Linked DNA regions of Homo sapiens: all the other regions are linked to region 1. Evidence: fine-mapped expression QTL. Tissue or cell type: whole blood. Region 1 holds a variant in brackets; each other region holds the start of a gene. Each region is shown on its reference strand, or each on the opposite one. Region 1 overlaps IKZF1 (IKAROS family zinc finger 1). Region 2 holds the start of ECSIT (ECSIT signaling integrator). Region 3 holds the start of MYL4 (myosin light chain 4). Region 4 holds the start of B4GALT3 (beta-1,4-galactosyltransferase 3). Region 5 holds the start of OPTN (optineurin).

The links. PIP is the estimated chance that this variant, and not a neighbour inherited with it, causes the effect.
Region 2: ECSIT starts here. The variant in region 1 is fine-mapped to the expression of ECSIT in whole blood (TOPMed, PIP above 0.99).
Region 3: MYL4 starts here. The variant in region 1 is fine-mapped to the expression of MYL4 in whole blood (TOPMed, PIP above 0.99).
Region 4: B4GALT3 starts here. The variant in region 1 is the best candidate, but not a certain one, in a credible set for the expression of B4GALT3 in whole blood (TOPMed, PIP 0.84).
Region 5: it holds the start of OPTN, and the variant in region 1 is fine-mapped to the expression of OPTN in whole blood (TOPMed, PIP above 0.99).

Annotation. Positions count from the first base shown.
Region 1 is chr7:50,358,553-50,362,552 of GRCh38, forward strand. The region is part of intron 3 of IKZF1 (IKAROS family zinc finger 1); the gene reads left to right. Among named protein-coding and RNA genes, the nearest start is that of IKZF1, 56 kb to the left of the region's middle. RefSeq lists enhancers at 1,699-2,218, 2,219-2,736. The variant G/A (reference allele first, on the strand shown) is at 1,732.
Region 2 is chr19:11,526,958-11,531,117 of GRCh38, forward strand. It overlaps ECSIT (ECSIT signaling integrator), which reads right to left and starts at 2,177. Exons shown (of 8, transcript NM_016581.5): 1 at 2,105-2,177.
Region 3 is chr17:47,207,675-47,211,821 of GRCh38, forward strand. MYL4 (myosin light chain 4) reads left to right here and starts at 1,674. Exons shown (of 7, transcript NM_002476.2): 1 at 1,674-1,883. The coding sequence starts at 1,749.
Region 4 is chr1:161,175,621-161,179,777 of GRCh38, forward strand. It overlaps B4GALT3 (beta-1,4-galactosyltransferase 3), which reads right to left and starts at 1,887. Exons shown (of 8, transcript NM_003779.4): 1 at 1,803-1,887; 2 at 814-959; 3 at 188-454. The coding sequence starts at 440. It also overlaps a transcript of PPOX not described here. RefSeq lists silencers at 658-707, 1,547-1,596, 1,807-1,976 and enhancers at 1,575-2,074, 3,213-3,714.
Region 5 is chr10:13,098,025-13,102,112 of GRCh38, forward strand. OPTN (optineurin) reads left to right here and starts at 2,139. Exons shown (of 15, transcript NM_001008212.2): 1 at 2,139-2,278. It also overlaps a transcript of CCDC3 not described here. RefSeq lists silencers at 1,415-1,474, 1,945-2,514 and an enhancer at 2,795-2,924.

The DNA.
Region 1 (4,000 bases):
GGCTTGGTGATGTCCTGTGCATGGCTCGGACTCCAGAGCTACTCAGAGGCAGAGGCCGTCTGTAAACACCTTCAGGTGGTTGGAGGCAGGGTGCTGCAGCCAATGCTGATCACTCACAAGCCAAGGCTTTATTGTAAGGGCTAAATAAAATAACATATGCCTAGCATTTATACAGCACGGGGCTTTTTAGGAAATAGTGAGACGACCATGGAGAGGTGGAGGAAGAGAGAAGGGAAAGAAGAAAAAGAAAAAAAAAGCCTTAAAGAGTTTCTTAAGAGAACTATATATTACAAAGTCCTTGGAGTTTTTTTTCCCTGGTTAGACATAAGTTTACATGAAACGTTAAACGGCTTAAAGTAGCCACATCTCCTTCCTTATGTCTTCTCACAGCCACTTGTGAGTTTCTTATCAAGATACAGAATTATGGCCAAGTGCGGTAGCTCACACGTGTAATCCCAGCACTTTGAGAGACTGAGGTGGAAGGATCATGTGTGCTCAGGAGTTTCAGACCAACCTAGGCAATATGGTAAAACCCTGTCTCTACAAAAAAATACAAAAATTAGCTGGGCATGGTGGCATATTCCAATAGTTCCAGGCACTCGGGAGGCTGAGACAGGAGGATTGCTTGAGCCCAAGAGGTCAAGACTGCAGTGAGCTGTGATCGAGCCACTGCACTACAGCCTGGGCCACAGAGCAAGATCCTGTCTCAAAAAATAAAATAAAATAAAATAAATTCTGCAACAAGTCACAATTCCTTGCTCAGAAATCTCTACAGGTGTGCTTCTTTGTTAAGAAATGGAGGAAACATGAATTTCATCCTGACTTCTGAGTCTTGTAGAGACCAGATCTGACTCCTGCAGCCTTCTGCCCACAGAGCTGGCAGGCGGGGGAATGTGCGCAGAGTGAGGAGGAGCTGATCTGACATTCCGAACAGTGGAGACTGCTGCCTATTTGGCCGCACCACTGTCCTTCTGCATGGAAAAGTCACAGTAAATAATGGACTCTCTACCTGTGAGTCGATTTTACTGAGCTGCCTTTTTAAATATATGTGTAGAAAGGGCGATCTCTGTGTGTCATTTGCACATGTACATACACATGTACACACGTGCACACGTGGTCACTCATGTACACATGTGTGTGCACCAGTGCACCAGACCAGATGCACCCACCCAATTCCACGCTCCTCAGCCCCTTGCTTTCCTCTGCAGACAGCCAGTTCAGCTACAGTTATGCCAGATTGCCTGCACTCTGATCTTTACCATCACCAGACTCTCAGCTTGAGCTCATGCCTGAGAAATCCACTTTCTGGGAGGAAGGCAGAAGAAACTGCCAAGGCAGGACTGAAGACTTGACCTCCACCTGTAGTGGGGTCAGGTCACCAGAGGCTGGCTGACTCCCCAGGATTTCTCAGCAGAGTATTACACAAATACCCCTTCCTTAAAGATTAGCAACCACTTAAAGACACAAAGTGTGCAGGACTGTACCCATGGCCGAGAGCGGCGGGATTAAGAGGGCAACTGAGTTGTTCTTCCCATCCCTCCTCCTCTGTGCTGAGTCACCTTCTGCTTGGAATTCTGACAGGGACCCGTTGGGCTTCTGGAAGGGAGGGACAGCAGAGGATCCACCCTCTGTGTGTCCTGGGGGAGATTACTTATCTCTGGCCTCCCTGAAGCAGGGCCTGGGCTTCTGGAATCTTTGAGGCTGACACCCTGCCAGCCCTGGGGATGAGAG[G/A]GAATGGCCGTGTCTGTCTGCAGAGCCTGAGGAGGAGCTGAGCACAGCCTCCAGAGTTCTCTTCAGTTGATCGCTTAGGTGGACAAAGGCCACAGAAATGGATTTAAACTCCTCAGCCCTTTCTTTGCATGTTTGTTCTCATTTGAAGTCAGAAGTGATATGTCCTACACCTCAAGAACGTGTGAAATGCACATACAATAACCCCATTTCAGGAAGCCAAGTCCAGCTTAACAGTCAAAACATTTCCTTCAGTCTTTAGTCCTTCACTTTGCCGAACTCCCTTTTACACCGGCAGCAACAGTTTAACCTGTTGCTTCTGTAAGAGTGTGCTACTGGGAAAACCACATCTAAAACACGTGTGCAGTTACATCAGCTAGAGCACATGCTAAACAGTTGATCAAAGGCTCTTGCCTTGTGGCCCACGCTGCAGACACTCTGACGACTGCCGAGCTCCGCAGCCCCATGTCGTCCCTTCCGCACTGCCTGCTGTGCCTCTCCTCTCCATGTGGCAGGGAACACAGCCAGTCATCACCATGTGGCTCTGCCCGGCGCTGCCCCAGCATGTCCTGACAGGGCCTAGATATGGAAAGGTGGCTCTCCATGCACACACCCCAAGCCCCTCCTGCCCGCCGTGTGACCCACACTCTTATGGGCAGCCCAGTTATTTTGTAGCATTTCCCTTCCTTATCATTTTGGCCCAGTGATCCAGCACAAATCTCCCTTATTAGAATAAAATTTGGAATGACAAAATTAAATTTCATTTTTCACTTATATTGAGGACCTCACACTCTTCACCCCTGCCACGATCCCTGACAAGAGCCTTCCTATCTAATCATTGTTCCTCCAGCCCTCTTAGTTTTCTTCAGCCTTTCTTGATTGCCTGAATGTCCCTTTCCCTTCTCCTTTTAAAGCATGAACCAAGCTTTCTTACCCCGTTCTCATTATCATTTTTGCATTTTCTTCTTTGCATATGATTCTCCTTAAATTATAAAACTTGGGGGTAATTTCTAGAGGTGCCATCATAGTGCTTCTGTCTACTCAGTGTCTTTAGAATCAGCAAATATCATTTTTACAAAAAAGTAGTATTTCTTCCAAAAAAGAGTAAGCAAGAAGGTTACAACACTGGGAAAATATCCCTAAGCCTGTTCTTCAACCTGTTGAATGTTTTCCCCTAAATTGTTATATGGAGATCCTGGACCCGGAAGTTGGCTGACATGAAACAGGCCTAGCAGGGCAGCTGAGGAAATGCTCCAACCTCAGGATCCAGGAAGATTGCACATGGCACCAAAACAATCATTTAAAAGCTAATCCTGGCCAGGCACAGTGGCTCACGCCTGTAATCCCAGCACTTTGGGAGGCCGAGGTGGGCTGATCACAAGGTCAAGAGATCGAGACCATCCTGACCAACATGGTGAAACCCCATCTCTACCAAAAGTACAAATATTAGCTGGGCATGGTGGTGCGCGCCTGTAGTCCCAGCTACCCGGGAGGCTGAGGCAGGAGAATCACTTGAACCCGGGAGGAGGAGGTTGCAGTGAGCCAAGATCATGCCACTGCACTCCAGCCTGGTGACAGAGCAAGACTCCATCTCAAAAAAGAAAAAAAAAGCTAATCCCATAAAAGAACCATCATTTTGAACCTGCTGTTTCCTTTCTTGTACTCTTTAGAAGTACCCATTTCTCCCTTTCTAAGCCATAGGTGTATTAATTGGAGCTTTTTCTATCTTAATTAGTTCACTGTGAACAATTAAAATTGTGTTAATAAAACAAAAACAAAAATAGGACTGGTGCCTAGTTGTACTACATGAAGAGAGAAAGGGCCAGACATTGGTTTTTCCTAATCTTCTGTCAAGTTCTCCAAATCATCTGCTCTGGAAGGTAGCTCCAACAGCTGGGATTTGAAGTAAAGCATAGTGACTTTGGCCATCACTGACATGTCCCATTTGAAGCAACCAAAACTGTCCCTCGACCTGACACTCATCCCTGAAACACCATGAGGGTAAGTGAGGCGCTTCGGAAGGTCCACTCAACCCCATTGCCAGATAGAGTAAGTGTCTGCCAGGGGCATTTGGAGCTGAAGGGAAGACTGTACAGACTCACGGTTTGCAGGCACTGAAGGCGTTTTCCTGCCTTCTTTTTCACCTTCAGTGGACTTGCAAAGCACTAGCCCTATTGTTTTTCCCATCTGGGAAACATGGTGAATGTTGGTTGGTTGTAGCTAATCCTATGGGTCTTGAGGTCTTTGTTGACAAGAAGGTAGATGTTATCTT
Region 2 (4,160 bases), not on the chromosome of region 1:
AATCCACCCATCTTGGCCTCCCAAAGTGCTAGGATTACAGGTGTGAGCCACCACACCCAGCCAGAGGGAGCTTTTAAACTAAAATTAGGCCAGGCGCTGTGGCTCACGCCTGTAATCCCAGCACTTTGGGAGGCTGAAGCAGGTGGATCACAAGGTCAGTTCAAGACCAGCCTGGCCGAGATGGTGAAAGCCCGTCTGTACTAAAAATACAAAAATTAGCCAGGTGTGGTGGCAGGCACCTGTAATCCCAGCTATTCGGGAGCCTGAGGCAGGAGAATCACTTGAACCTGGGAGGTGGAGGTTGCAATGAGCCAAGATTGTGCCACTGCACCCCAGTCTGGGCGACAGAGCGAGATTCCATCGCTAAATAAATAAATAAATCAACTAAAATTAGTGATTTCTGCCTAAAATCGCTAACGGCATATCACACTTAAAATCAGAGACTGGGCACACTGGCTCATGCCTGTAATCCCAACACTTTGGGAGACCAAGGTAGGAGGATCACTTGAGCCCAGGGATTCAAGACCAGCCTGGGCAACATAGAGAGACCCCATCTCTACAAAAAAATTAAGAATTATCCAGGCATGGTGGTGAATGCCTGTCATCTCAGGTACTCAGGAGACTGAGGCTGGAGGATCCTTTAAGGTCAGTAGTTAGAGGTTGCAGTGAACCATGACTGCACTTGTGAATAGCCACTGCACTCTAGCCTGGGCAACATACTGAGATCCTGTCTCTAAAAATAAATAAATAGCCAGGGAGCAGTGGCTCATGCCTATAATCCTAGTGCTTTGGAAGTCCAAGTGGGGAGGATCGCTTGAGCCCAGGAGTTCAAGACCAGCCTGGACAACATAGCAGGACACGATCTTTACAAAAATTATTTTAAAAAATTAGCTGGACCTGGTGGTGTGCACCTGTAGTTCCAGCTACTGGGAAAGCTGAGGCAGGAGAATCACTTGAGCCATGGAGTTTGAGGCTGCAGTGAGCTATGGAGTGCACTGCACCACTGCACTCCAGGCTTGACGAACAAGTGAGATCCTGTCTCTAAAAAATAAAAATAAATAAATAAAATCAGATAGGGTCTACCCCTCTAAACTCAACTCCTACCACTGGCAGCTTCAGCTACACTGTTTCTGAAAGAAACTAAGTTTATCCCATCTCAGAACCTTTGTACTTGCTTTTCTCTCTGTCTAGAGCTTTCTTCCTCCAGATCTGCCCACAGCTGTCTCTGGTCATTTCAATGAAAGGTCTTCTTTGACCATCTCCCATTCCCCACATTCTAAAAGCCCTCATCACCCTATTAATTTTTGTTTCGGAGACAGGGTCCTGCTCTGTTGCCCAGGCTGGGGTGCAGTGGCACAATCACGGCTCACTACAGCCTCAACCTCCTGGGCTCAAGCAATCCTCCCACCTCAGCTTCCCGAGTAGCTAGGACTACAGGCGTGCACCACTACGCCCAGATAATTTTTTGTAGAGAACAGGGTCTTGCTATGTTGCCAAGGCTGGTCTCGAAACTCCTGGGCTCAAGCGAAATTCCCGACACCATTAACGCATTTTTAGTAACTTATCAGTATCTGAAATCACCTGTTTCGTTTATTTCTAATTTGTTCAAAGTCTGGTTCCCCCAGGAGATGAGAGATTTTTATCTATCTTCCTCATTGCTGTGTCTCCAGCACCAAGGACAGTGCCTGGTATATGACAGATGCCTAACGAGTAACAACTGAACGGAAACAAGCCTCAATTTCAAAAAAACACCTATAAATCTGAACCCCGAGGTATGGTGTACGTACAACAGCTTTGAAACCGGCTGCCAGGATTCTGGGTCTCTTGGGGGAAAAAGGCAGACGCGGATTCCAAATCCTGCCCGGTTGCCGACTTGCGGCGTGACCTCTCGCGAGGTCATCTGCAAAATGGGAGACTGGGGGCGTGAGGCGGCTGGCACAAGACAGGCGGCCTTTCCCAGCGCGTCCCCGCCCCCACTACGAAAGGTCATGGCGCCCTGGCCCTGCAGCTGGGTCCCTCCAGGGCTGCCCTCTCGCGCTGCCGGGTCCTGAAGGGCCCGCCTGCAGCCCAGCAGTTCGCGTTCGCCTACCCGCGCGCGACCTACCTACTCACGCGGCCAGCCGCGGACTCCAGGCCAGCTCTGTCTTGTTGCTGGGCGCTGCCATATTGGCCCAGAGAGCGTCCGGGTCAGGGAGCTCCAGGGAGGTAGCAAATCAAGAAAGCTGGTGTAATAGGTCCCGCCCACAACGCGAGGTGGGCCAATAGGAAGGCGGAAGGATCTGGGACCCGCCTCATAACGAGCCAGGCCCAGCCTCTAATGAGGCAAGACGCACTCCAGACCTGGGAACCTTGAAATGGCCCGGGAGGCTGGACTTGGGAGTCATAGTCTATGAATCCAGTCGCAGGCCCCAGCGGCTGAAATGAGAAAATGAATTAAAAAAAAACAAAAAGTGAAAGGGGGCCGGTACGGTGGCTCATGCCTGTAATCCCAGCACTTTGGGAGGCCAGAAGTTCGAGACCAGCCTGGGCAACATAGCGAGACCCCCTTATCTACAAAAAATTTAAAAATTAACTGGGCATGATGGCGCATGCTCATAGTCCCAGCTATTCGGGAGGCTGAAACGGGAGGATCGCTTGAGCCCTGGAGGTCGAGGCTACAGCGAGCCATGATTGCACCCCTGCACTCCAGCCTGGGCAACAGAGTGAGACCCTGTTTCTAAAAATAGTAATAATAAATAAATAGGGCAGGGCGCGGTGGCTCACGCCTGTAATCCCAACACTTTGGGAGGCCGAGGCCTGCGGATCACCTGAGGTCAGGAGTTCGAGACCAGCCTGGCCAACATGATGAAACCCCGTCTCTACTAAAAATACAAAGTTAGCAGGGCATGGTGGTGGGTGCCTGTAATCCCAGCTTCTCGGGAGGTTGAGGCAGGAGAATCGCTTGAACCCGGGAGACGGAGGTTGCAGTGAGCCAGGATAACACCACTGCACTCCAGCCTCAGCAACAGAGCGAGACTCTGTCTCAAAAAATAAATAAATAAATAAAAATTAGTGGGGCGTGGTGGCGTGCTCCTGTGATCCCAGCTACTCGGGAGGCTGAGGCACGAGAATTGCTTGAACCCAGGAGGTGGAGGTTGCAGCGAGCCGATATAGCACCACTGCACTCCAGCCTGGGCGACAGAGTGAGACTCCGTCTCAGTAAATAAATAAATAGGAAGGCCTCAGTGAGGTGTCCTTTGAGTAAAGGCCGGAGGAAGTGAGTGAGCCATCTGGATATCTGGGGAACGCTTTTGGCACTGGGAACAACAGCAAAGACTCTGTGTGGTCGGAGTGGAGTCTTTGGAGGAAATGGGATAAAACGAGGTGAGATTGAGTAATGGGGGCTCCTGGTCTCCCCCAGAAAGCACCAGATTTAGGCTGTTAATAACTAAGGTGGATAAGCACATAAAATGGGCTATTGGCAATAACAGTGTCCCCCGGGAAGGAAGGCTATCTGCCCTCATAAGCCCATTTCTGCAGTCCCTCAGCCTCTGTGGCGCAGTGAGCTGGCATGGAGACTAGGATGCAAGAACCTACCCTTAGGATGCCTCAAGGACTCTGCGCAGCCGCAGGACATCCACCTCATCAGAACTCTTGTGATTGGGCAATCTGAGAAAACCTGTAGCCAATCAGCTGCTTGGCTGGAGCACTCCTCTCTGGCAAGTTGACAGGCACGTGGGCAGCGGCTGGGAGCGCTACTGCCCTCTGCCAGGCTCCCGCAGCTACAAGCAAGCAGAGTCAGCTCTGCTTAGCTGGGGAGTGGGTAAGATGATGGGGTCGCTGACCTGGCTGTGGCCTTCAGAGTTATTGGTGTCCTTCTCTTGAGGTGGTCATGGCTTTTGTTTTCTTATTTATCCTTCCAGAACTAGTCTTTTAATATTTTATTTTATTTTATTTTATTTTATTTTTGGAGACGGAGTCTGGCTCTGTCGCCCAGGTTGCAGTGCAGTGGTGCAATCTCAGCTAATTGCAACCTCCGCTTCCCACATTCAAGCAATTCTCCTGCCTCAGCCTCCCGAGTAGCTGGGACTACAGGCGCATGCCACCATACCCGGCTAATTTTTGTATTTTTAGTAGAGATGGAGTTTCACCATGTTGCCTAGGCTGGTCTCCAACTCCTG
Region 3 (4,147 bases), not on the chromosome of region 1:
GAGTCTAAAGATTCAGCACAAAGCAGTTTTGTGTAGTGGATACATAAGCTTTTTTGTTGTTATTTTTCTGAATTATTTTGTTGACTTTCAAAGTTTTTTTTACATAAACAGTAAATGCTCGTTATAAAAATTTCCATTAATACAGGAAGTGAAAAAAGTAAAAAACTGCAAATTGCTGTTATCCTCCCACCCTTACCCCCTAGGTCCCCAGAGGTGTCTCTGTTAACAGTTCAGCGTGTATCCATCCTGACTCCTCCAATAAATGCAGAAACTTGTATGTCTCTCCCCGACAACTGGATTATCATATACATTATTCAAGCATAGGCTTTAGACTCAGACATATCTACATCTAATCCCAGCTTATAGCTAATTATTTGAGTGACCTTGGCCAAGTTGTTCATCCAGTTTTAGTCTCAATCTCCCCATGTGTAAAGTGAAAATAATAATAGTATCTACCTGGCCTGGCGTGGCGGCTTATGCCTATAATCCCAGCCCTTTGGAAGACCGAGGCTAGTGGATCCCTTGAGCTCAGGAGTTCAAGACCAACCTGGGCAATTTAGCAAGACCTCATCTCTACTGAAAAACAAAAAACAAAAAAACTCCCCCAAAATTAGCCAAGTGTGCTGGTGTGCACCTGTAGTCCCAGCTACTCGGAAGGCTGAGGTGGGAGAATCGCTTGAGCCAGGAAAGACGAGGCTGCAGTGAGCTGTGATTGCACCACTGCACTGCAACCTGAGCAACAGAGCGATACCTTGTTTCTGTTAAAACAAACAAACAAACAAAATAGTATCTACCTTATAGGATCATGGTGAAGATTTAATGAGATTTTATATGAATAGCACTTAACAGTTCCTGGTACTGATAGTAGTAAGCACTACACACACACACACACACACACACACACACACACACACAGAGCACAGAATGAGTTAGAGGTAAAGTGAAAACTAAACCCCAAGTTTTCTGACCCTCAGTCTCCTCGACTTTCTACCACATCTCTCTGCTTCTCTCCTAGGTGCCTAGGCATGGGTTCAGTGCTCACTACTTGTTGAATGAATGACTGAGGTTGTGTGTAAGGGGGTAGATCTAGGGATCTGAGGTCTGTGGAGTTCCTGGGATGCCTGCTCTGGAAAATGGAGGCTTTCATCCTGTGAGTTGGGAGGGTGTGGGGCAGTGTGGGTTGGCTGGACCAGCTGTTGCTTCAGAGCTCCATGCCTGGAGAGTTGGGCCTCTAGGCAGAGCTGAGGGCCCAGAGTGGCTCTCAGCTTAAAGGATCTTGGCTTAGAAGGAATGTGCAGTGGGCTGCCTCTGCTCGGGAGGGGCTAAAAAAAGCCTCACCCTCCCCTGGGCTTTGTGTGAGGCTTATCAACTGCTCAAGTCAGCTCATCTCTCTGGCTGCTCCGGCATATTTGAGAAGGTCTGTTTCCCTGGTCCTTCTGGGTTTCCACCAATTGGCAAGAAGGGATCAGCCTGTCCTAGAGGTGAAGAGAGAGCTGTGGCATGAAGGGGAGGGGGCTGGTGGCCCCAAACCTGGTGACAATACACAGTTGTCAGCTGTACCCTGCTGGCGTTTCTTCCTTTTATAGTCAGCAGCAGTTGCTCTTGCTTTCACCCAGCCCCTCTGTGGGGGCTCCTGCCCAGGATAAAAGGGAAGGGAGGCAGCCCAGGCTCCTATCTCATCTCCCAGACGCCACGTCTCTCGGTTTCTTCTTAGATCACTCCTCTGCCAAAGATCCCAACAAGACAACATGGCTCCCAAGAAGCCTGAGCCTAAGAAGGAGGCAGCCAAGCCAGCTCCAGCTCCAGCTCCAGCCCCTGCACCAGCCCCTGCCCCAGCTCCTGAGGCTCCCAAGGAACCTGCCTTTGACCCCAAGAGTGTAAAGGTAAGTGAGGCTCAGCCATTGGGATAGAGGTGGGGATGACATTGAGAGTCCTTTTGCTCTGGAGCTTAGCGATCTACTTTATGTGGGCTGGACTGGGATGAGGACTAGGGTGTCCATGCCCCAGATCGCAGTCCCATGGGGCAGTGGAGTGGGTGTTGGGGCTGATGAGGGGGAGATTGAGTCATAAACCTTTTCCGTCAAGAATGAGGTGCTGCTTTGAGGGAGCCCTGTCCTGCTACCCTAGATTTGTGCAGCTAAGTTGGGAATGGGGGGAGGTACAACCAACCATCCATCCACCCTTTTATAAGGCATTATGAGGACCACCATAGCAAAGTAAAACAGACTAGCCTTTTCCTAGGAGGTAGTGGGATATCTTTATGGAGAACAGACAGATCATGGCAGCTGCCAGTGTAACTTGGAGTAAGTGATATAAACAGTCAGGGAATATCCTCCCTGTGCATGGCAGTTTGGGAAAGGCTTCACTCACAAACACTCTTACGGCAGGTGAGGGCAGGGTGGGAAGGAGGTTGTGGTTAAGGTAAGAGGAGCCCGGATTCCTCTCTCTCTTTCCTTACCCAGACGGGCCTTTCCTTCTGTGGCCTTAGCCTGGGTTCCTATCTGTAGCATGCAGAGGACTGGCCCACCCTGGGCTGAGACCCTCTCTCCAACCGGGTCAGGAAGCTGGGCCTGGTTCCTTTGCCCCACCCTGCTCTCCTCACACAAAACATTCCTCTCCCTGGAGCTGGTGTGGGCCCTGCATGCTGACTCAGTCATTTTAGACCTCCCAGCTCTCTGGCCCAGCTGCTGAAGGAATGGAACTGGTGGGAGAGGGGTGGGCTGAAGAGGGAGGGGGCCAGAGACCTCTGAAGAGGAGCAGTTTTAAGCCTTGGCACCAGAGTGGAAAAGGTCAAGTGGCTACTGGTATGAAGAGCTATTAATAACAGGTTGGGAGTGCTGAGCCCCCAGGGATCTCAGCCTTAGGACAGGGCTGGGGGTGGTGAGGGATCAGGTCAAAATAAGAGCACAGGACAAGGTTCTGTGACAAGCAGGCAGGGAAATTAAAACCCAGAGCTCTAATTGTATGACCTCCCTGCCCTCTGAGAATTCCTCTCATACCCACAGCCGGGATAACCCTACAAGTATTATGCCAAAGACCCAGTCCCCGCAAGGGACAGGAACTGCTTAGCCAAGAGATGGAGGCAATTGTCCCTTTTCTGAGCTTGGTTATGGCTCACTCTGGGGAAACTGAGGCTACTGTAGGACCCTGAAAACACCTGCAGGTTTTCTAGGTCATACATCACTCCATTTACAAGCTGAGCCTGGCAGGAAAAGCTGACTATTTCACCCTTCAGGATCCCTCCTCGCCTTTATTTCTGATTTGTTCCCATAAAGCACTGTGCCTTTGGGTGGGTTGCCAGGCCTTGTCCCTGGTGTCTGGGCAACAGCTGCCTAGTGGCATCAAACTGGTGTCCTTCCCTTGGCCTGTCACTTCTTTCATTCACTCTCCTCTCTCAATTTCTCACCCGTGAGAAATTGCACCCCTGGTTGCAATCCTCTTTTCCATATCTGCATCTTCATGGGGGTTGTTGAAGTTGCTTTGAAGTAGAAAAAAAATAGGTATCTTTTATGAGAGACATTTTCCCTATTATTGTGTTATACTTACCCAGTTCCTTTGATTAGAAGGTTCTTTACTCCAAGACAGAAGAGAAGCCAGATGAGGTGATTCATGTTTATAATCCCAGCCCTTTGGGAGGCTGAGGCGGGAGGGTAATTTGAGGCCAGGCATTTGAGTCCAGCCTGGGCAACATGGCAAGATCCTTGTCTCTACAAATAAATAAATAAATTATAAAAAAGATTCGAAGATAGAACAGAAGCAAACTTAAGCCCAGTGTGTGTAGTTAGGACCACGTCTATTGAGATTTTAAGTTTTTACATTAATTGCTCTTACATGTTTATTCCTGGTTCTTAAAGCATTGTAAAGTAAGGCAAACTGTGCCTTTTCCTCAGAGAGTGAATGCAGAGCATCCTTCACCCCATCTAGGGGGTTCCTTTAACTTTCTGACCACCCCCTACTTTTGGCAGTCTATTCCTAGCCACAACTAGTTTTCTTTCCAACCCAGTTAACTCCCCACTGCCCCAACCTATCCCCAGCTCATGGCTGCCATATCTGGGTCCTCATGAATGGAGGTCAGTTCTCGGAGATGAGACAGGATGGGCACAGCACAAGCAGCAGCAGAATTAGGACTAGGAATGACGGCACTTGA
Region 4 (4,157 bases), not on the chromosome of region 1:
AACTCCCAATTCAGAGTCTACTCTATCTCAACCTCAGCCCTCTATCTCAACCTCAGCCTACCTGCAGCCTCAGCCTACCTATCCTCTTCTAAGTTCCACTTCTGCCACTCCATGCCTCCCTATCCCCAAGCCTCCCTGTCTCCGCACCTTGTCCTTCCTTTCACCACCTCCTTCCTCCTGCACTTACCTAAGAGAGGAGATCGTTCTGGACAGTAGGGCAGACCTTGAGGAGCTGGAGGACCCCCTGGGGCCCCAGGCAGGTGACTGAGGTTACTGTAGACATCACGAGGGTGAGAATAGTCAAATGTCGGTCCCTGATCTCGGCCAAATAGGGCACTGAGACTTCGGAAGCCCCCCAGTGACAGGTACATCATGACAGCCAGCTGGGAGCCCACAAGCAGGGCCAGCGTGCAAGGCCGCTCCAGCAGCCTCCGCAACATCCTGGGGGTGAGATCTAGGGAGGGAGAGGGGAATTCTGGGGGTAGGCAGGAAGAGAGCAAGCCAGCAGAGAGGTCAGTAGGTAGGGTTGAAGGTGATGCCAGGGGTAAAGAGGAAAAAGCAGAAAACAAAGTCACAGAAGGGAGCACACAGGTGCACAGTCACGCAAGGAAACAGAATGTAACCACCAGTAACCCTACCACCTGTCACTTCAGCCCAAGTTTCGCTCTCCTCTACCTCCCCCCAAACCACTCCCACCATCTACTGTCAGTCCTCACCCCCAAAAATGTTTACATCATTCAAATCTCATGTTCATTTCAGAAAGTCTCTAGAGAACCCCCTCTTCCAATTTTAGAAGGGAAGAGATAGACTCACCTAGGTTCAAGCTGTCTTCTTAGGGATCATGGGGGCTCCAGGGGGTCCCGGGGGGACAGAGATGTGAGGCATTATCTAAAATTGGAAATGTCACAGAGGGCAGAGAAAGGCTCCATCCAGCACTCCAGCAGCGAATCTGGGACCAGCTGGAACAGAAGTGGTAAAGGATAACTAGCTACCTGCACCGCCAGAGATCAGGATCAGGGTGAAGCTGGTTTCCCAGCAGGCGAAGTGAAGGAAAGTGGTTGGAAAGGAAGAGGAGGAGCAGGAGATGGTAGGTCCCTCGCCTATCTCCCGTGCTACCCTGGAATGATAAGTGTCAGGTTCATACTTAACCACCCCCGTACCCCCACCCCAACAGGACAGATTGGGGAGTGGGGACAGGACAGCTAATGGAAACATTGTTTTCCCCCAGACCAAGAACCAGTTGAAGTGGCGACAGAGTCATGACAGGACCGTGGAGTGGCCTAAGGAGTACCCAGGGCGAAGTAGGAAACAGGCTCCTTCTATTCTTCATGTGCCTGGGTGCCAACTCCTCAGGTGCAGGGACCGTGACCACCTGGGGGCTGTAAGCGAACAGCCCCGGAGCTCGGCGGAGAGTAGGGTGGGGGTGGCGTCCTCTACCTTTTCTACCTTTCCCCTCTTCTAGCGGGGGTGGGGAGGAGGGTTACTGCTGAAGAGAAAGGGAGAGGGAGAGCAGGGGCAGAGACAGTCAGGGGTGGCTGGAAGGGCTCACCTAGAGGGGCGTGGTCCGCGCTGTGGAGGGGGTTAAAACCCAGCTCTTTCGGAGCACGCCCATCCTATCCCAGTCTCTTGCTTTTGCCCTACCTACTAGCAACGTGAGCCCGCCCGGCCCCCGTCCATACTTCCACCTAGGACCCCGTCCCTGCTCAGGCTCGTCTCCAGGCGTTACCCAAAACTTCTCACTCTCTCGAATGCCCAAACCTTTATCCCAGGCCTCCGTGTCGACGCATTCCCAGCGCACATACCTGGTCTTTTGCTGCCTGTCGTCACCGCCACCCCAACAGCCGGGCAGGCATCGCTGCCGCCATCTTGGAAGCGGGCGCTGCGGGGGCGGGGTCTCGCGTCATGGGGCGGGGCCTCGGGGCGGAGCCACCCGGGCTGACTAGGCACCCGGTCCCAGACACCGCGTGGCCGGGGGCTTGTGAGGGAGCAGCGCCTGAGCCTGCCCACCTGGAACGCGTTGTAGGCGACCCCCTGGGGAGCGGGTGCTAGGGTTCAACTCCACTACGCAGACTGCTAGTGGGATTTCATTTCCTGCCCCTCAGATTTGTAAAAGCAGAAGCTCAAGCCCTTCATTTTCCTCTGGGCCGAGACTGATCAGGAGGCTAGTGAGCCGGTTTCTGGTGCTCCGCTGACCTCGTTATCACCTTGTGGTTGGCTGAGCCCTCTCCCAGTGTGTCAGTGGCACCCCCTGCAGCCTAGTGCCACTTAGTATCAATTGTTCCTTACGCAGGCTACAGCGTTGCGGACCGCTCTAGCGCATTTTTGTATTCCCGTTGTATCCCGCAGGCCTGGAAATAAAAAGCGATTAGTTAATAAAACAATGAAACATTGAAGGTGGAGGGAAAGACAGCGTCTTCTTTAAAGTCAAATGATGTTTCCCCAGATATTAGAGTAAAATGGATGCTCCGTTAACATGCAATATGTTTACCTTACGACAAACACTACCGCCTAGCATATTGTGTTCCTTAGAAGCAGATATTCACGCTGAAGAAGCAATCAGAGACTTGAATAACTCACAGAATCTGCCCCAAAAAGCCCATGGTCTTGTGTATCTTGTATGGAGGGAGGGATGTAAACAATATAACGTGATAAATATGCTGGCCTAGAAGTGGCAACTCATTCATACGTGGAGATTCTAGAAAGGCTTCCCAGAAGTGATGGCTAATGGGAAACCTGAAGGACTTGTCTATAGCATATCCTTCTGCTTTAAAGATTCTGTTTTCATGGGAGTTATTTTACAATTCATGTAGGTAACTGATCTGTATGCAAATTCTATCCTGTCTGGTAGAGGTTCAATTAACCTGCTGTTCCCCACACTGTGGGGAAAAAAAGCAGTTTTGGCGTCCATTTTCATATTCATTTCTGTTTTCCTGATCCATAAATATGTCCGTTCTCTAGATTTTCTCTTGTATTAATTATAACATCTGCTAGTTTCTTCATGAGTTAGGTAAAATAAACACGTGTTCATTCTTTTCTTAATTTCTTTTTTCTTTACTTTTTTTTTTTTTTTTTGAGAGGGAGTCTCCCTCCTGTTGCCCAGGCTGGAGTGCAATGGCGCTATCTCGGCTCACCGCGACCTCTGCCTCAGCCTTCCTCAGTAGCTGGGATTACAGGCATGCGCCACCACACCCGGCTAATTTTGTATGTTTAGTAGAGACAGGGTTTCTCTGTGTTGGTCAGGCTGGTCTGGAACTCCCGACCTCAGGTGATCCACCCGCCTCGGCCTCCCAAAGTGCTGGGATTACAGGTGTGAGCCACCACGCCCGGCCTTTTTGTTTACTTTTTTTTTTTTAATTTAAAAATTTGTGACAGGGTCTCACTCTGTCACCCAGGCTGGAGTGCAGTGGCAAGATCACAGCTCACTGCAGCCTCAACCTCCTAGGCTCAAGGGATCCTCCCACCTCAGACCCGTGAGTAGCTGAGTAGCTGGGACAACAGCACATCCAGCTAATTGTATTTTTTGAAGACACAGAGTTTTACCATGTTGTCCAGGTTGGTCTCCAACTCCTGGGCTCAAACTATCTGCCCACCTTGGCTTCCCAAAGCGCTGGGATTACAGGCGTCAGCCACAGCATCAGGCCTCTTAATTTTATTTCTCTTTTTCCTTCCTTCCTTCCTTCCTTCCTTCCTTCCTTCCTTCCTTCCTTCCTTCCTTCCCTTCTTCCTCCCTCCCTCCCTTCGTCCCTTCCCTTCCCTTCCTTCTTTTTTTTCCTTTCCTTTCCTTTTTTTTTTTCCCAAATACCCAGTCTTCAAGGAGAATTTTTTTTTTTTTGAGTCGGAGTCTTGCTTTGTCACCCAAGCTAGAGTGCAGTGGTGCGATCTGAGCTCACTGCAACCTCCGCCTCCCGGATTCAAGCGATTCTCCTGCCTCAGCCTACCGAGTAGTTGGGATTACAGGCTCCCGCCACCAAACCCGGCTAATTTTTGTATTTTAGTGGAGACGGGATTTCACCATCTTGGCCAGGCTGGTCTTGAACTCCTGACCTCATGATCCACCTACCTTAGCCTCCCAAAGTGCTGGGATTATAGGCATGAGCCACTGCACCCGGCCTATGTGTTCATTTTTATGTTGGTATTGACAAAGACCATCTCCTTAA
Region 5 (4,088 bases), not on the chromosome of region 1:
AATGAGGAAGGGTAAGATGAAGTAACTTGGTCAAGGTCCTACAGCTAAGAAGTGGTTGTCGGGGGAGTGTGTGTGCATGTGTGTGTGCAGTGCTTCAGGGCACCCCCCACCCCGACCCCACCACTGAGAGCAAGGAATCAGGAGAAAACAACTTTGACTGCTTTCTGTACCAGAAACTCACCTCGAGCCTCCCACACCAAAGCCATGGGCAGCTTGTGGGTGACCTTCTTCTCTTGGCTCTGAGTTTCACTGATGCTCATTTTAATTCACTTTCATAGTGTTGTTTTGTTCTCGTTTTTGTTTTTGCTTGAGACAAAGTCTCCCTCTCACCCAAGCTGGAGTGCAGTGCTGCAATCACAGCTCATTGCAGCCTCTCCCTCCTGGGCTCAAGCGATCCTCCTGCCTTGACCTCCCAAAGTGCTGGGATTACAGGTGTGAGCCACCGTGCCCCACCTATAGGGTTTTAAACAGTAAAAGGAGCCTAGTGAAGTACGACTTACCGCAGGCACCCCTTACAGGCCCCGGGGGGACCCTTTTCTGCCGATCCCAGGGTACAGCTGTGACACCGTCTTTTCTGCCTGGATTATCCCAGTAGATAAACAAAAATTAGAGATCGTCATTCCATTTCTCTCTGTATATATTTTTCCAAGCCCTTTTCATGAATGATCAGTTATTTCCTGCACTGATTTTTTTTTTTTTTTTTTTTTTTTGAGACGGAGTCTCACTCTGTCACCCAGGCTGGAGTGCAGTGGCATGATCTCGGCTCGCTGCAAGCTCTGCCTCCCGGGTTCAAGCGATTCTTCTGCCTTAGCCTCCCGAGTAGCTGGGACTACAGGAGAGTACCATCATGCCCGGCTAATTTTTGTATTTTTAGTAGAGACAGGCTTTCACCATATTGGCCAGGCTGGTCTCGAACTCCGGACCTTGCGATCTGCCTGCCTTGGCCTCCCAAAGTGCTGGGATTACAGGCGTGAGCCACCGCGCCTGGCCCTCCTGCACTGATATAAAAAGAATTTTTTTAAATTCTCTATTTCTCCCCACTCCCACCCCCAGGCTCACTCCTTATAAAGCAGCCTCTAGCCTCATCTGCCCCTCCTACACCACACCAACTCGAGGGCCCGGAATTGGGTCTGGGGCAGTCGCTGACTTGCTTGCTTCTCTGCCCTGCTCTTGGGGTTAGCCTCAGGGGCAGGGTTGAGAGTCAGGCTTGGCCAGGCAGCAGGAGGTCCAGACAGCGAAGCAGAATCCTTCGGAGATACCAGGAGAGGGCGCATCTGCCTTTTTCCTGTTTCAGATTAGGTTTTGTTGTTGTTGTTTTGTTTTTTTTCTCTCCCTCTCTCCCTCCCTCCCTCTCTCCCTCCCTCTCTCCCTCTCTCCGTCCCTCCCTCTCTCTCTCTCTCCCCCTCCCTCCTTCCCTCCCTCCCATCCCTGCAGCGCTACCCGGGTACTCTGGATGCACATAGGGCGGCTCTCGCTCCTACCTTGTCATCCTGCTGTCTAATCCGGGGGCAGCTTCCCTCCTCCACACCAGCAGAGGCTATTCTTCAGCAACAAGAATAGCCGAGCCTATTCGTCCGCAACAAGAGCCCAAGAAGCATCCTGCAGGCTTTCTGCTTTTTGAGTGTATTTTAAAGCAAAAACGAGTGGAAAGCTATGTATGCTCAGTTAACTATGTCTAGATGTTAACCTTTTTTCAAAAAACACAGATGGAGGCCTCCCTCCGAGGATGCCTGGCATTCTCCTCTTTCTGTGGGCGGCAGCGACCCCCTGCGGCTCCAGCCTCCACTACGGGATCTGCGGGAAGACACGGGGAAGACGAACTCCGCACACTGCATTTGATTAATGATTTATTTTGATTAACGCCGTCACAGTGACGCCTTAGAGCAGTCCCTGTTCACCCGGGTCCCAGCCTCGACCCCGCACGGACAGCGAGGGTGGGTAGCTGGGGGCGGACGCAGGAAAGAGGAGGGGCGGGGCCTTGGTCGGGTGGGGTATGGAATGGGCAGGGTGGGGGGGATGGGCGGGGTATGGGATGGGCGGGGCCCGGGAAATTCCCCGGCGCGGGCAGGGAGCGGCTGGCTGTCAGCTGAGCCGCGCTGGGCGGGGTCGCCAGGCCGCGCATCAGCCCTAGGCACCCCAGTCCCGGCTGCCCCCTCCGCCACCGCCGCCGCCCGCCGGCAGGTTCCCTGGTCAGCGTCCCATCCCGGTCGGGAGTTCTCTCCAGGCGGCACGATGCCGAGGAAACAGTGACCCTGAGCGAAGCCAAGCCGGGCGGCAGGTGAGCCAGGGCAGGGGGCTGCAGCGGTGGGCGAGGGGGCGGCGGCTCCTTCCCGGCGGGCGCTTCCGCGGCCTGAAAACGGTACCCGCCGCCCTGCCCCGCGGCCCGGAGCCTGTCGGGGTGAGGGTGGCGAGGGGTGGGGCGGCCCTCCCGCGAGACGGCTGCCCTGGGAGGATCCCCAAGCCTCGGCGGGTCCTGACCTGGTGGGAGAGGGTGGGTAGTGAACACAGGGTGGGCCCAAGAAGGGTCCAGGGCCGGCCTCTTGGCCGCAGGTAACCCCTCTACAAGTCACCCAGAGACTTGGAGGTGACGTCCTCCCGCAGGCTGGGAAGGATTCCGCAGCCAGTTCCTCGCCATAAGGAGGTGGTTACAGACACGCCTGTGGGAGACATGGGACCACTACCCGAGCTGAATGAGGTGCCCAGGGTCGGTGGGAATCCACATAGACTGCTGTGTCTAGGAGAGTGTGTACACTCTATATAGAGAGAATATTTGATGAGGCCGAGAACCCCAAAGGAATTGTTTTTGCCATCGAAATGCATAAGCTACAGGAAGTAAACATCGCTCAAAGAAAATGAAACCCAGGTTCCGACCTGGCCTCCACCAGCAGGAAAACTGTTGTATGGAAATGTACACCAAGGAACTGTTTGTAAGGATGAAATGGAAAATGAAAGCATAGAAAAGTAAGGCAATGTGAGGACCTCAGAAGCCTTTGGATCTGGTTAGCAAGGTGCAGGCTGTGTGAACAGAAGAACCCACCTTGCTCTTTTGACCCAGGGAGAGAAGAGTTAGTGGTGCCAGGCTGCCTCCCAGGACAGGCCCAGTTTTGGGGCGGGGGCTGGAGAAGTCCCAGGGCAGACCCCAAGGCCAGGGATTGCCCTGGAGTGGACAAGGCAAGTTTAAATGTGACCTGTAGACAGAGGACGATCATTGATTTAAGTCCTGGCATAATTCATCTGTTTTTCCACTGGGCCAATTTTAGGCGTTCTTTATATATTACGTACAACACAATAAAAGTAACAGCTTCTTTTTTTATAAACTAACCTTTAGGTTGCATATTATGCTAGGAATATAACTAACCTAACCTCCACCCCCCCACCCCCCCACCCACCCCCGGAAAACCAAACTTTATTCTCGAGGGCAACTGGACACTGTATTATGTCCTGCCGAACCCCCGCCCTTACTTAGGTAGAGGCGCATAAGTATTCTGGCCATGAAATACACCTTCTGTTTTATAGAGATTTGGCATATTTGATATATGTTCTTTGGAATTTATGAAATAGAAAACCCAAAGGAAAAAGAAAAAAATTAAACTTTTTTTTAAAAAAATATTTCATTTAGAAAGAAAAAATTAAAAGTTTTTGTTATTTCCACTTTGACATGTGTATGAGGAGCATTAGAATCTGTGTTATGAAGTGATACCCAGATGGCTTTGCAGTGACAGAAAACACTTCTAATTTTTCAAATAAGTTAGAAAGGAGGATTTTGAGAATCTGGAAGTGAATGCCGTGGAACTGTGGAGAAACTCCTAACAATACTGGCATGCTGAGTTTGTCACCTACACAGCAGAAAGCATTTTACAGGTATTAGACTTAAAAATACCTCATTATGCTATATTTTCATTTCATTTCAACCAACATTTACTGCAAGCCTGCTATGTGCCAGTCTCTAGTAAGAATAACATGGAGAGAAAATAGACGGGCAGACGATAGCAGTAATTTCAGAATGGGCGGAGGAGGTGGAAATGCAGAGTGTTCTTGGGTGCTCGGAGTAGGGAACAGTTCATATGACACAGGACATCATATTTAAG